Regions from separate parts of the Homo sapiens genome. Here region 1 is linked to region 2. The links come from fine-mapping of genetic effects on gene expression. Tissue or cell type: transverse colon. Region 2 holds a variant in brackets; the other region holds the start of a gene. All regions are shown on one strand. Distances are from middle to middle.

Region 1 (8,085 bases), 200 kb before region 2:
ACTGTATTTGGAAGAATCCATATGTGATAGTTCATTTTACATGTTAACTTGAATGGGCCATAGTGTGCCCAGACATTTGGCTAAACATTATTCTGAGTGTCTGTGGGGGTATCTCTGGATGAGATTAACATCTGAATCTGTAGACTGATTGCCCTCCTTAACATGAGTGAGCCTCATCCAAGCCATTGGAGATGTGAGTAGAAGGAAAAGACTGAGAGAGAATTTGCTCTTTCTGCCTGTCTTCTGGCTGGGACATTGGTCTTCTCCCACCTTTGGTGATATGGTTTAGATTTCTGTCCCCGCCCAAATCTCATGTCAAACTGTAATTCCCAATGTTGGAGGTGGGGCCTGATGGGAGGTGATTGGATCATAGGGATGGCTTTACCCCTTGGCTCTGTGTTGAGATAGTGAGTGAGACCTGGTTGTTTAAAAGTGTGTAGCACCTCCCTCCTCCCCCGACCCTTGGTCCTTCTGCTGCCACATAAGACATCTGCTCCCACTTTGCCTTCCCCCATGAGTTCCCTGAGGCCTCCCCAGAGGCAGATGGTACCATGATTCCTGTACAGCCTGCAGAACTGTGAGCCAATTAAACCTCTTTTCTTTATAAAGTTCCCAATCTCAGGCATTTCTTTATAGCAGTGCGAGAACAGACTAACACATTTGGATTCCGACTAGGACTCAGACTGGAAGTTACACCAGCAGCTTTTCTGCTTCTTAGGCCTATAGATCTTGGACTACAACTATACCTTCAGCTCTCCTGGGTCTTCAGATTGCATGTCTTGAGATTTCTTAGCCATATATATTATATACATATAATCCTTGGTCATAGGTCAATCACATTCCAATTTGCATTAAAAACAACTCTGGCAAAGTGGGGTTTTATAGAAAGATGAGAAATACAAACTTTCCATTCAGACCGGGATTTCCATTTTAGTTGATCAGTAGTCTAAGATCTTAACCCATCTTGAAATGTCAGTCCTGTGCTTCCAGCCTCTTCTCATATGCCTATCTCAAACTCATTTATTTCTTGTTTGCTTAGTTTTTTTCACCAGTACATTTGGGGATTTTAAATACCAGGAATGTGTGTGTATGTAAAACAAAGGCTATGTGTTGTATTATACCACTGTCCCAGAGCTCTGGCCCACTTTAAACAGGTTTTGTATAGTTCCACCTTGGTCAAAGATAGGGTGTTCCTTTCCTATCACCATCATTCCACAAGGTTACCAAGTCTTTCATCTTGGGACAGTGGTGAGGGTGCTTCAAGTTCTTTGTCAGATGGGCAGAATCTCAGGGCACAAACTGAGTGACAAAACTGAGGCTCTGGGCTGGCCACTGGCAACTGGTGGTTCTTACCAGCTGACAACTCTTTGGTTACATGCTTCCGGGCCATTGCTTAGTAGGAGTGTGAATGATTACAGGCTCACTGGTCAGTGGTCCATAGTCTAGTTGGTCATTTTGGCTCCTCCCATTCCTTTCTTCTTTCCCAGCAAGGCAAGAATGTTTTTCACCTTACTAAAGGCTTCTAATGGCCTAACTCACTATCGTTTTTGTCACTTTTGTTTCCAGTCCCATAGTGTGTAACTCCTGTCTACCTAGGTAGGGCAGGGGAGGAGAAGGGAGCCTTGGTTTACAAGTAAAATTATAATTTAGTGTGGGGGGAACAGCAATCACATTGATCAATATTTCAAAATCTACTCATTCATACTTTGAGACCCATAAAGTACTATTTCCTTCTTCTCTTCCTACTTGATTGGCTGCTGCTTCTCAGTCTCCTTTGTTGGGTCCTCCTTACCCTTTTTTATGTCATCCAAAGGACCACCAGGATGGCTAGATAGTAGAAAAGAAAGTTGGCCGGCACAGTGGCTCACACCTGTAATCCTAGCACTTTGGAAGGCCGAGGCGGGTGGATTGCCTGAGCTCAGGAGTTTGAGACCAGCCTGGGCAACACGGTGAAACCCCATCTCTACTAAAATACAAAAAATTAGCCAGGCATGGTGGCGTGCGCTTGTAATCCCAGCTACTCAGGAATCTGAGACAGGAGAATCATTTGAACCCGGGAGGCGGAGGTTGCAGTGAGCGAGATCGCGCCACTGCACTCCAGCCTGGGCGACAGAGTGAGACTCCATCTCAAAAAAAAAAAAAAAAAAAAGAAAGAAAGAAAGAAAAGAAAGTTTTATTCACAACATCAGTTTACAAACTCGGAGAGATAGTCTCTGGCTTGAACTGAAAGTGGTGCTCTCTCTGAAGAACAAAGAGAAGGTTAGAGGTTTTACAAAAAGGAGGAATGTTACATATTGCTCTTTGAGAAAGTTCATTGGCAGTAGTAAGGGTGTGGGGAGCTGACAAGCTCCAGTTGGTGAGCAACTGCGGTGGGCAAAATTAGTCCTAGAGTTGCAGCAACTTATCTCAGAAGCTATAGATAAAACTGGTTTTGGCTTATAATAAGCAGTTTCAGCAGTCAAGCTTACAGAGAATAACATTCCTGGAGCAATGTTGTGTACCCTGAGTGCTTCCCCCAGCTAATTTCTCGACTTTCTTTTATTAGGTATGACAAAAATGACCCAATTCTTATGATCAGCTTTCACATTTCTTAGCATTTACCACCACCTGACACATTTTTATATTTGTTTTCTGTTTATCCCACTAGAAATGTAAGCCCCATGAGAACAGAGACTTTACCTCTTTATCTATGTCCCTAGTGCCCAGAACAGTATTTGGCATATGGCAAGTACTCAGTAGTTGAATGAATGAATGAATCAAGGCTGAAGTTTAAGTATGTTGTTTAATGAATGCCAGGAGAGAACATAAAGAAATAAACAGAATAAGCCTGGCACGGTGGCTCACGCCTGTGATTCCAACACTTTAGAAGGCCAAGGTGGGGGTGGATCACCTGAGGTCAGGAGTTCAAGACCAGCCTGGCCAACATTGTGAAACCCCGTCTCTACTAAAAAAAAAAAAAAAAAAAAAAAATAGCCAGGCATGGTGGCACGTGCCTGTAATCCCAGCTGCTCAGGAGGCTGAGGCAGAAGAATCGCTTGAACCCGGGAGGTGGAGATTGCAGTGAGCCAAGATTGCGCCACTGCACTCCAGCCTGGGCAACAAGAGCAAAACTCCATCTCAAAAAAAAAAAAAAGACATAAACAGAATAACATGAACCTTGCTCATTGAATAAACATTCATCTACAACCTATATGGCTTCAGCTTTGTACTAGGTGCTAAATACATGGGATCCATGCAGACATGGCCTTTGCCCTTTTGGAGACTTGTTTCAGCCATAGTCCCATATAGGGGTGTCAGTTCCAGAAGTCCAAACTTAAGAGACTGAAGACCAAAGAGAGGATCAGAGTGCCAGTTTCCTTTATATACACCTGACTTTACCCAGGGCGATGGACAGCTAGAATAACCTCTTCTTTCAGGGGAGAGATGTCCCTACCATTTGCACATTACCTTGCACCATCAACTTGATTATTATTTAATATCATAGCTCCAATATGTCATCATGTGGGCAAGAGATACACCACAGTAAGCGAATTCACAAGAGGGTGATTTATAAGTCATGTTATTATTTATAGTGAGAATTGCATAAGTTCAAGAAGAGACCAGAAAAGTCACCTACCAGGTCATTCAGACGTGAAGGTCACTCCCTATCAACCTCAATTGAAATGCAAATCAAAATAGAAATGTCCAACTCTCTTAGGAGGCAACAGGCATCCTGAGACCCTGGGTCCTGTCTTTCATCTCTGCACCCTTCCGGTCTGAAACAGCGGCCAGTTCTTGTTCGATGTAAGGAACACTAGTACCCAAGGGCTCAGGAGTTCCGCCTCTCTTCCCCAGTTCTGGGAAAAGAAACGAACCATAGAGATGTGGCTTCCTAGAGATCCGGGATGAGGGGCGGGGTGCAACCGGAAGTCGCAGTATTCTCGGCTCGGCCATTATTCTGTGCCTCGGCTGCCGGAAGGGCTCGTTCCTGTGTCATCTCCTAGCGGCCTGGCGCCGAGGCGGCGGTACGCAAGGCTGGAGCCGCAGCGGGAGCCCCCGGTGAGCGGGGTGGGCTCGGGGGCGGGTGGGCGTGCAGGGAAGGCGGCCCGGGACGCGGGCCTGAGCTTGCTGGGACTGCACAGCCCTCGGTAGCCTCTCCCGGGCCCTGACCCCCGGCATGGTCCGTCGCCAGCTTCGTGTTGGGGTTCGACGTCGTGGCCTCGGCTGGGCAGGCAGCCGGCCCGAGGGAAGTACTGAGGACAGCAGCTCCGAGTCTGTGTGTGTTTGTGGACCGGTGCTCCTGTCTAACGGACTCTGCTGGCGCTTTGAGAAGAGCTGCCTCAGTAGCCTGCTCCCCCAGCTCAGGCCTTTCTGCTCTTCCTCAGTCTTGTCTGAGGCTAATCCACAGAAACATTCTGAGGTTTCCCTATTACCGGTGGCGCCCAGACTCTTGAGGACGGATTTTTTTGTTTGTTTGTTTTAAGGGGTGGAACGATTTTAGCTTTTTTAGTCTTTTAGTTTTGTAATATAATGGTATTTAAAAATCAAACTTGAAAAACTCAAACTTGAAACCACCCATACCAACATTACTTCAGGCAATACATTTTAACACAAAGTACTAAGACCGTAAACTCAGAATAAATGCTGGCCTTTGCGCGCGCGCGCGCACACACACACACACACACACACACACACACACACACTCATTGCCAACCTGTCAGCGACGATTGTTACTGGTTTTCTCTTTTTGCAGCTTACCAGATTAAAGCTTTGTCGTGGACTGGTGTTTGGAAACTGTTGTTTTAGAACAGTTTGGGTTGTTTGGGTTTCATAAGTTTCTTCGTAGATGGAATTGTTTTGGACTTCTGGAATTAGAATCCCTGAATTCAGAATTTGCTCCCATGTCTCAGTTAGCTAAGTGGCCTTGAGTGGATTCGCTCCTCTGATCCTTTTGTTTTTTTTAACTTCTGCTTTGAAAACCTTTTGTGAGAAGCTAATAAAATGTATGTTTAAGAATTTGTTATTTTTATGTTATTTGAAAATTATTCAAAATTCTTTTTAAAAATTCCTTTCCATCACCCCCAGATCAGTTACCAAGGACTACCAAGTTTTTCTCAATTGCCTTATCCCTACTTCGTTTAGAACTTAAGTCATGTGTTTAGACTATTAGAAAAACCTAACTGACCTTTCTTGATATCCAGCCCTCCCACCCCCACCATTTCTCACTAATAGAGTCCTGACACCACTTAAGACTCTCTTCATGCTCAGAGTGAAAAAGGTCTTTCTAATTGTGGTACAGTACCCAGAAGTCGTAAAAGATTGACTGCATGGCAAAAAACACTTTAAGCAAAGTCACATGGCATATATAGTCACAAAGACACTTGACAAACTGAGAAAAATTTGCAGCTGCCATTGTAAACAAAGGACTAATTTTCCTGTGATAAAAGTGTGTACAAATTAACAAGACCCAACACCTCAATGGAAACATGGGCAAAATATATGAATAGTTACTTTAAAAAATATACAAATGACTCTATATTAATTCGTTCAAAATGCAAGTCAAAAATTTGGCGAAGAGCACAAACTTTGAGAAACATATTGGTGAAAGTGAGGAAAGGCACTCCCATACAGCTGTTTCTGATGGGAGTATAAATTATAAATTGGTTCAATCCTAGTGAGGTCAAATTGGCAATATCAAAATTATACATGTATATACCTTTTAACTCAGCAATTCTGATTCAAGGAATTTTTCTTATATATGCCTACACACATCCAAACTGATGTATGCCCAAGATTATTCATGATTATATTGTTGGTAATAAGAAATGATTGAAAACTACCCAAACATTCCATCAGTGCTGGCATGAATAAATTATGATACATCTATGCATCCATAAAAATGCGGAGAGGGGCTGTGTATTGACAGGAAAGATCTCTAAGACATATTATTGAGAAGAGGAAAATGTACCACGTCATTCATGGTGTCCTACCATTTGTGAAAAAAAGGGAACTAGAAAACAATATATGTACACACATATGCAGAAATAACTGGAAAGATAGATAAGAAGCTAACGGAGAAGGAAACTTTACACAGTATACATTTTATAATTTTAAATTTTGAACCAAGTGAATATATTACTATTTTTAAAAATAAGGAAAAATGTAAAGTAAAGCCTCTTTAATGCTGAAATGTAAGTAAAATCACTTCACTTACAGGACAGGATCATCTCCTCAGAATACTGCCTCTCAAGAGCAGTAGTTAGAATTTAACTTCTGTTCACCTCTCTGCTCTACTCCTACACTCTTGCCTCTGAAGTTTACTTTCCTTCTCTGGTCTTCCTTCACAGAGTTATGTGTCCTTCCTTGCTTTTGAAAATAGAGTTTCTTTCTTCCTGGAATGGCTTTCCTCATAGTCCAATGATCCTTTTATTTTTCCTTAAAAGCCCAATCCAAAAGTACCTTTCATGGCTGGGTATGGTGGCTCATGCCTGTAATCTCAGCACTTTGGGAGTCCAAGGCAGGCAGATCACGAGGTCAAGAGATTGAGACCATCCTGGCCAACATTGCGAAACCCCGTCTCTACCAAAAATACAAAAATTACCTGGGCATGGTGGTGCGAGCCTGTAGTACCAGCTGCCTGGAAAGCTGAGACAGGAAAATTGCTTGAACCTGTCAAGCAGAGGTTGCGCTGAGCCGAGATCATGCCACTGCACTCCAGCCTGGGTGACAGAGCGAGACTCCATCTCAAAAAAAAAAAAAAAAAGAAATTTCCTTTCATGAATCCTTTCTGTAGTTTTATGTTCTCCTATTACTTGTACTTAAACATTATATTGAAATTATGTTTATATTTCTGGCTCCCCTGTTTGTTATAAGCAAGCTCTCTTTAAGGGTCTGTGTGTTCAAATAAAGAGGATGTTTTCATATGTCACTGATGGTGATATAACTGTTATAACCTTAAAAGCTTAAAAATGTTTTTATCCTTCAGCCCAACAATTTTCTCCTAGGAGTTTATCCTGAAGAAATAAGCAGAGATGTAACTAAAAATTTGTTATCAAGGATAGCCGTTGTGACCTTATTAATAATAGGGGAAAGTTAGAATTTATCTATGATAATTAAACTATGGTAAGGACATAGTTCAGAATAATAGCAGTGATTGTTTTCTGGTTTTGTGTGTTTTCTGGTTTTATAATTAGAAAAATGTTATTTCTAAAGAGCAGATGATTTCTAGAGAGCAAGTCTAAGTTCTGTATAATAAAACTCTATTCATATTTATCCATCTGTGGGACTAGATGTGAAAGGAAAAGAAGAAAAGGCAAATTTATCCAAATATTTTGATTAACAGAAAGAACAATTTTCAGAGAATTAAAGGCATGTAGAGCAAAACTACACAGAACTTAATTCATCCTTTCTTTGTTAATTGAGGAGGTGGTTAGGATTTTCTCTCATATGTATCATGATTAATGATTACTTGTTAACTCTGCGGAACATAGGAAAGAGTACTAGTTACAGAAGGGTAATAAGTAACATTTAAACCCGTATACCAGGCACTGTTCAAAAACTTGAAATGTATTATACATCAAATTCTCATGACAACCCCATAAGGTAGGAACTGTTACTATCCCTATTTTACAGGTTAAGAAACTAAGGCTCAGAAGTGAGGTACTTGTTCCAGGTTACACAGGAGTAGTCAGGATGCTCATTGTTAGAGTGGTAAAGAGTCTATTGTAATTAGCTGAAGGGATCCTATGAACAAAGACCAAAGGAAGTTCATGTGTTTGGTTTCAGCAGTCTCGTGCGTAACATGAGTGTTTGTATCCCAGAGCCTTAGGCAGGGGGTTTCTGTCAGAGGAAGCACTCTCTAGAGCCTGGAACCTTGCACTCACAAAGGTTCTCTTTATTACTGGGAGCTGACTGGGAGCTGACTGGGGCCTGGAAAGCTCAGTTGTTTCTCTGGGCTAACTTTAACAATGATTTCTTGAGGTCTTGTAGATGATACTCTCCAAGCTGTAAGGAAGAAGTCAAGGATTAAGGAGACCTGGACTGGAGAGGAGCCTTTTTCAAAAAACAACAATGACAAGAGAAAATGTAGCCCACAATGCTCTGAGA
Region 2 (8,104 bases):
GATGGTGTCTCATTGTGGTTTTGATTTGCATTTATCTGATGACCAGTGATGATGAGCATTTTTTTCATGTGTCTCTTGGCTGCATAAATGTTTTTTTTTTGAGAAGTGTCTGTTCATATCCTTTGCCCACTTTTTGATGAGGTTGTTTGTTTTTTTCTTGTAAATTTGTTTAAGTTCTTTGTAGATTCTGGATATTAGCCCTTTGTCAGATGGGTAGATTGCAAAAATTTTCTCCCATTCTGTAGGTTGCCTGTTCACTCTGATGGTCATTTCTTTTGCTGTGCAGAGGCTCTTTAGTTTAATTAGATCCCATTTGTCTATTTTGTCTTTTGTTGCCATTGCTTTTGGTGTTTTACTCATGAAGTCTTTGCCCATGCGTATGTCTTGAATGGTATTGCCTAGGTTTTCTTCTAGGGTTTTTATGGTTTTAGGTCCAACATTTAAGTCTTTAATCCATCTTGAATTAATTTTTGTATAAAGTGTAAGGAAGGGATCCAGTTTCAGCTTTCTACATATGGCTAGCCAGTTTTCCCAGCACCATTTATTAAACAGGAAACCCTTTCCCCATTTCTTGTTTTTCTCAGGTTTGTCAAAGATCAGATGGTTGTAGATGTGTGGTATTATTTCTGAGACCTATGTTCTGTTCCGTTGGTCTATATCTCTGTTTTGGTACCAGTACCATGCTGTTTTGGTTACTGTAGCCTTGTAGTATAGTTTGAAGTCAGGTAGCGTGATGCCTCCAACTTTGTTCTTTTGGCTTAGGATTGTCTTGGCAATGCGGGCTCTTTTTTGGTTACATATGAACTTTAAAGTAGTTTTTTCCAATTCTGTGAAGAAAGTCATTGATAGCTTGATGGGGATGGCATTGAATCTATAAAATTATCTTGGGCAGTATGGCCATTTTCACAATATTGATTCTTCCTACCCATGAGCATGGAATGTTCTTCCATTTGTTTGTGTCCTCTTTTATTTCGTTGAGCAGTGGTTTGTAGTTCTCCTTGAAGAGGTCCTTCACATCCCTTGTAAGTTGGATTCCTAGGTATTTTATTCTCTTTGTAGCAGCTGTGAATGGGAGTTCACTCATAATTTGGCTCTCCGTTTGTCTGTTATTGGTACATAGGAATGCTTGTGATTTTTGCACATTGATTTTCTATCCTGAGACTTTGCTGAAGTTGCTTATCAGCTTAAGGAGATTTTGGGCTGAGATGATGGGGTTTTCTAAATATACAATCATGTCATCTGCAAACAGGGACAATTTGACTTCCCCTTTTCCTAATTGAATACACTTTATTTCTTTCTCTTGCCTGATTGCCCTGGCCAGAACTTCCAACACTATATTGAAGAGGAGTGGTAAGAGAGGGCATCCCTGTCTTGTGCCAGTTTTCAAAGGGAATGCTTCCAGTTTTTGTCCATTCAGTATGATATTGGCTGTGGGTTTGTCATAAATAGCTCTTATTATTTTGAGATACGTTCCATCAATATCTAGTTTATTGAGAGTTTTTAGCATGAAGTGCTGTTGAATTTTGTCGAAGGCCTTTTCTGCATCTATTGAGATAATCATGTGGTTTTTGTCATTGGTTCTGTTTATGTGATGGATTGCATTTATTGATTTGCGTATGTTGAAGCAGCCTTGCATGCCATAGATACAGCCGACTTTATTGTGGTGGATAAGCTTTTTGATGTGCTGCTGGATTCACTTTGCCAGTATTTTATTGAGGATTTTTGCATCGATGTTCATCAGAAATATTGATCTAAAATTCTCTTTTTTTGTTGTGTCTCTGCCAGGCTTTGGTATCAGGATGATGCTGGCCTCATAAAATGAGTTAGGGAGTATTCCCTCTTTTTCTATTGATTGGAATAGTTTCAGAAGGGATGGTACCAGCTCCTCTTTGTACCTCTGATAGAATTTGGCTGTGAATCCGTCTGGTCCTAGACTTTTTTTGGTTGCTAGGCTATTAATTATGGCCTCAATTTCAGAGCCTGTTATTGGTGTATTCAGAGATTCAGCTTCTTCCTGGTTTAGTCTTGGGAGGGTGTATGTGTCCAGGAATTCATCCATTTCTTCTAGATTTTCTAGTTTATTTGCGTAGAGGTGTTTATAGTATTCTCTGATGGTAGTTTGTATTTCTGTGGGATAGGTGGTGATATCCCCTTTATCATTTTTTATTGCATCTATTTGATTCTTCTCTCTTTTCTTCTTTATTAGTCTTGCTAGCAGTCTTATCAATTTTGTTGATCTTTTCAAAAAACCAGCTCCTGGATTCATTAATTTTCTGAAGGGTTTTTTATGTCTCTATCTCCTTCAGTTCTGCTCTGATCTTAGTTATTTCCTGCCTTCTGCTAGCTTTTGAATTTGTTTGCTCTTGCTTCTCTAGTTCTTTTAATTGTGATGTTAGGGTGTCGATTTTAGATCTTTCCTGCTTTCTCCTGTGGGCATTTAGTGCTATGAATTTCCCTCTACACACTGCTTTGAATGTGTCCCAGAGATTCTGGTACATTGTATCTTTGTTCTCATTGATTTCAAAGAACATCTTTATTTCTGCCTTCATTTCGTTATTTACCCAGTAGTCATTCAGGAGCAAGTTGTTCAGTTTCCATGTAGTGGTGCAGTTTTGAGTGAGTCTCTTAATCCTGAGATCTAATTTATTGCACTGTGGTCTAAGAGACAGTTTGTTGTGATTTCTGTTTTTTTTACATTTGCTGAGGAGTGCTTTACTTTTAACTATGTGGTCAATTTTGGAATAAGTGCGATGTGGTGCTGAGAAGAATGTATATTCTGTTGATTTGGGGTGGAGAGTTCTGTAGATGTCTATTAGGTCCGCTTGGTCCAGAGCTGAGTTCAAGTCCTGGATACCCTTGTTAACCTTCTGTCTCATTCATCTGTCTAATATTGACAGTGGGGTGTTAAAGTCTCCCATTATTATTGTGTGGGAGTCTAAGTCTCTTTGTAGGTCACTCAGGACTTGCTTTATGAATCTGGGTGCTCCTGTATTGGGTGCATATATATTTAGGATAGTTAGCTCTTTTTGTTGAATTGATCCCTTTATCATTATGTAATGGCCTTCTTTGTCTCTTTTGATCTTTGTTGGTTTAAAGTCTGTTTTATCAGAGACTAGGATTGCAATCGCTGGTTTTTTTTGCTTTCCATTTGCTTGGTAGATCTTCCTCCATCCCTTTATTTTGAACCTATGTGTGTCTCTGCACGTAAGATGGGTCTCCTGAATACAGCACACCAATGGGTCTTGACTATCCAATTTGCCAGTTGGTGTCTTTTAATTGGGGCATTTAGCCCATTTACATTTAAGGTTAATATTGTTATGTGTGAATTTGATCCTGTCATTATGATGTTAGCTGGTTATTTTGCTCGTTAGTTGATGCAGTTTCTTTTTTTTTTCCTTTTTTTTTTTTAAACTTTTATTTATTTTTTATTGATCATTCTTGGGTGTTTCTCACAGAGGGGGATTTGGCAGGGTCACAGGACAATAGTGGAGGGAAGGTCAGCAGATAAACAAGTGAACAAAGGTCTCTGGTTTTCCTAGGCGGAGGACCCTGCGGCCTTCCGCAGTGTTTGTGTCCCTGGGTACTTGAGATTAGGGAGTGGTGATGACTCTTAACGAGCATGCTGCCTTCAAGCATCTGTTTAACAAAGCACATCTTGCACCGCCCTTAATCCATTTAACCCTGAGTGGACACAGCACATGTTTCAGAGAGCACAGGGTTGGGGGTAAGGTCACAGATCAACAAGATCCCAAGGCAGAAGAATTTTTCTTAGTACAGAACAAAATGAAAAGTCTCCCATGTCTACCTCCTACTACACAAACACGGCAACCATCCGATTTCTCACTCTTTTCCCCACCTCTCCCCACTTTCTACTCCACAAAACCGCCATTGTCATCATGGCCCGTTCTCAATGAGCTGCCGGGCACACCTCCCAGACGGGGTGGTGGCCGGGCAGAGGGGCTCCTCACCTCCCAGTAGGGGCGGCCGGGCAGAGGCGCCCCTCACCTCCCGGACGGGGTGGCTGGCCGGGCAGGGGGCTGACCCCCCCACCTCCCTCCCGGACGGGGCGGCTGGCCGGGCGGGGGGGCTGACCCCCCCACCTCCCTCCCGGATGGGGCGGCAGGCCGGGTGGCGGGCTGACCCCCCCCACCTCCCTCCCGGAC[C/T]GGGCGGCTGGCCGGGCGGGGGGCTGACCCCCCCACCTCCCTCCCGGACGGGGCAGCTGGCCGGGCAGAGGGGCTCCTCACTTCCCAGTAGGGGCGGCTGGGCAGAGGCGCCCCTCACCTCCCGGACGGGGCGGCTGGCCGGGCGGAGGGCTGACCCCCCCACCTCCCTCCTGGACGGGGCGGCTGGCCTGGCGGTGGGTGACCCCCACCTCCTTCCTGGACGGGGTGGCTGCGGGGCGGTGACGCTCCTCACTTCTCAGACGGGGCGGCTTCCGGGCGGAGGGGCTCCTCACTTCTCAGACGGGGCGGTCGGGCAGAGACGCTCCTCTCCTCCCAGACGGGGTTGCGGCCGGGTAGAGGCACTCCTCACATCCCAGACGGGGCGGCGGGGCAGAGGCGCTCCCCACATCTCAGACGATGAGTGGCCGGGCAGAGACGCTCCTCACTTCCTAGATGGGATGGCGGCCGGGAAGAGGCGCTCCTCACTTCCTAGATGGGATGGCGGCTGGGAAGAGGCGCTCCTCACTTTCCAGACTGGGCAGCCAGGCAGAGGGGCTCCTCACGTCCCAGATGATGGGCGGCCAGGCAGAGACGCTCCTCACTTCCCAGACAGGGTGGCGGCTGGGCAGAGGCTGCAGTCTCGGCACTTTGGGAGGCCAAGGCAGGCGGCTGGGAGGTGGAGGTTGTAGCGAGCTGAGATCACGCCACTGCACTCCAGCCTGGGCAACATTGAGCATTGAGTGAACCAGACTCCGTCTGCAATCCCGGCACCTCGGGAGGCCGAGGCTGGCGGATCACTCGCGGTTAGGAGCTGGAGACCAGCCCGGCCAACACAGCGAAACCCCGTCTCCACCAAAAAAATACGAAAACCAGTCAGGCGTGGCGGTGCGTGCCTGCAATTGCAGGCACTCGGCAAGCTGAGGCAGGAGAATCAGGCAGGGAGGTTGCAGTGAGCTGAGATGTCAGCAGTACCGATGCAGTTTCTTCCTAGCGTCGATGGTCTTTACAATTTGGCATGTTTTTGCAGTGGCTGGTACTGGTTGTTCCTTTCCATTTTTAGTGCTTTCTTTAGGAGCTCTTGTAAGTCAGGCCTGATGGTGACAAAATCTCTCAGCATTTGCTTGTCTGTAAAGGATTTTATTTCTCCTTCACTTATGAATCTTAGTTTGGCTGGATATGAAATTCTGGGTTGAAAATTCTTTATTTAAGAATGTTGAATATTGCCCCCCACTCTCTTCTGGCTTGTAGAGTTTCTGCTGAGAGATCCGCTGTTAGTCTGATGGGCTTCCCTTTGTGGGTAACCCGACCTTTCACTCTGGCTGCCCTTAACATTTTTTCCTTCATTTCAACCTTGGTGAATCTGACAATTATGTGTCTTGGGGTTGCTCTTCTCGAGGAGTATATTTGTGGTATTCTCTGTTTTTCCTGAATTTGAATGTTGGCCTGCCTTGCTAGGTTGGGGAAGTTCTCCTGGATAATATCCTGAAGAGTGTTTTCCAACTTGGTTCCATTATCCCCATCACTTTCAGGTACACCAATCAAATGTAGATTTGGTCTTTTCACATAGTCCCATGTTTCTTGGAGGCTTTGTTCATTTCTTTTTACTCTTTTTTCTCTAAACTTCTCTTCTCGCTTTATTTCATTGATTTGATCTTCACTCAGTGATACCCTTTCTTCCACTTGATCGAATCGACTGTTGAAGCCTTGTGCAGGTGTCATGAAGTTCTCATGCTCTGGTTTTCAGCCCCATCAGTTCATTTAAGGTCTTCTCTACACTGTTTATTCTAGTTAGCCATTCGTCTAATCTTTTTTCAAGGTTTTTAGCTTCCTTGCATTGGGTTTGAACATGGTCCTTTAGCTTGTCGAAGTTTGTTATTACCGACCTTCTGAAGCCTACTTCTGTCAACTCGTCAAAGTTATTCTCGTCCAGCTTTGTTCTATTGCTGGTGAGGAGCTACAATCCTTTGGAGGAGAAGAGGCGCTCTGGTTTTTAGAATTTTCAGCTTTTCTCCTGTGGTTTCTCCCCATTTTTGTGGTTTTATCTACCTTTGGTCTTTGATATTGGTGACTGACAGATGGGGTTTTGGTATGGATGCCCTTTTTGTTGGTGTTGATGCTATTCCTTTCTGTTTGTTAGTTTTCCTTCTAACAGTCAGGTCCCTCAGCTGCAGCTCTGTTGGTGTTTGCTGGAGGCTCACTCCAGACCCTGTTTGCCTGGGTATCACCAGCGGAGGCTGCAGAACAGCAAATATTGCTGCCTGATCCTTCCTCTGGAAGCTTCGTCCCAGAGGGGCACCCACCTGTATGAGGTGTCAGTCGGCCCCTACTGGGAGGTTTATCCCAGTTAGGCTACACAGAGGTCAGGGACCCACTTGAGGAGGCAGTCTGTCCATTCTCAGTGCTCAAACACCGTGTTGGGAGAACCACTGTACTCTTCAGAGCTATCAGACAGGGATGTTTAAGTCTGCAGAGGTTTCTGCTGCCTTTTGCTCAGCTATGCTCTGCCCCCACAGGTGGAATCTATAGAGGCAGCCGGCCTTGCTGAGCTGTGGTGGGCTCCACCCAGTTCAAGCTTCCAGGCCGCTTTGTTTACCTACTCAAGCCTCAGCAATGGCGGATGGCCCTCCCCCTGCCAGGCTGCTGCCTCACAGGTCGATCTCAGACTGCTGTGCTAGCAGTGAGTGAGGCTCCGTGGGCGTGGGACCCACCGAGCTAGGTGCGGGATATAATCTTCTGGTATGCCATTTGATAAGACCATTGGAAAAGCTCAGTATTATGGCAGAAGTGTCCCATTTTTCCAGGTACAGTCTGTCATGGCTTCCCTTGGCTAGGAAAGGGAAATTCCCCGACCCCTTGCGCTTCCTGGGTGAGGCGACGCCCACCCTGCTTCAGCTTGCCCTCCGTGGTCTGCACCCACTGTCCAACCAGTCCCAGTGAGATGAACCAGGTACCTCAGTTGGAAATGTAAAAATCACCCATCTTCTGCATCGATCCCGCTGGGAGCTGCAGACTGCAGCTCTTCCTGTTTGGCCATCTTGCCTAATTCACATACATTTTTCTTAGGCCTGCCCAGTGGCTAAAGAAAAATAAATGAACATAGCATTTTAAAAATTGAGTGTTTTATTATAAAAATCTATATTTCAGCATTCTCTAGCAAAGTCATACTATTTGGTACCACTAGGCCCACATCCCTGCATGGCAGCCATCAGTTGCTGCAAAATTCACCCCTTTCTCTTTAGAGACAGAATGTGCTGTCTGGGTCAGCACAGCCTCCACCACCCTGTCCCATTTCCCCAGCACCAAGTCCACTTATCTAGTTGTCTGATTGGCCTGTAATCTACTTGAAGTGCAGTGGTATAACCCAACTCAAATTAGTTAAACAAAATAGGTAATTTATTGATAACTTATCACAGGTGCACTGTTGCCTTCTCTTACCCTTAGCATTTGTTTTAACTTCTGAATCACTGGATCTAATAATCTTGGCCTCAACTCAAACTATTTTGTGTAATTTGTTTTGAAGTCACTAATCTCATGGGATCTTAATTTCCTAATGTTTATATGTCAGAGTTGAACTACATCAAAAAATGTTAAGAATCCACTATATTTTGCTACATACTTAAATTCTATTTTCATCATTAAATACTTCCTAGGTTTGTTTGTTTGTTTGTTTTTGAGACAGTGTCTCACTTTGTCACCCAGGCTGGAGCACAGTGGCATAAACACGGCTTACTGCAGCCTCAATATCCCGGGCTCAAGCTGTCCTCCCACCTCAGCTCCCCACATAGCTGGGACTACAGGCACATGCCAGTGCACCCAGCTAATTTTTGTATTTTTTGTAGAGACAGAGTTTCGCCATGTTGTCCAGGCTGTTTTCAAACCCCTGAGCTCAAGCAGTCCACCCACCTCAGCTTCCCAAAGTGCTGGGATTAGAGGCATGAGCC

The links. PIP is the estimated chance that this variant, and not a neighbour inherited with it, causes the effect.
Region 1: ZNF197 starts here. The variant in region 2 is fine-mapped to the expression of ZNF197 in transverse colon (GTEx, PIP above 0.99).

What each region holds. Positions count from the first base shown.
Region 1 is chr3:44,621,106-44,629,190 of GRCh38, forward strand. It overlaps ZNF197 (zinc finger protein 197), which reads left to right and starts at 3,931. Exons shown (of 6, transcript NM_006991.5): 1 at 3,931-4,038; 2 at 7,969-8,085. The coding sequence starts at 8,050. ZNF660-ZNF197 (ZNF660-ZNF197 readthrough) reads left to right here. Exons shown (of 8, transcript NR_147692.2): 3 at 7,969-8,085. The region is part of intron 2 of ZKSCAN7-AS1 (ZKSCAN7 ZNF cluster antisense RNA 1); the gene reads right to left. ZNF197-AS1 (ZNF197 antisense RNA 1) reads right to left here and starts at 3,692. Exons shown (of 2, transcript NR_046658.1): 1 at 3,617-3,692. RefSeq lists a silencer at 3,935-4,284 and an enhancer at 4,264-4,766.
Region 2 is chr3:44,816,943-44,825,046 of GRCh38, forward strand. All of the region lies in intron 20 of KIF15 (kinesin family member 15), which reads left to right. Among named protein-coding and RNA genes, the nearest start is that of MIR564, 41 kb to the right of the region's middle. The variant C/T (reference allele first, on the strand shown) is at 4,164.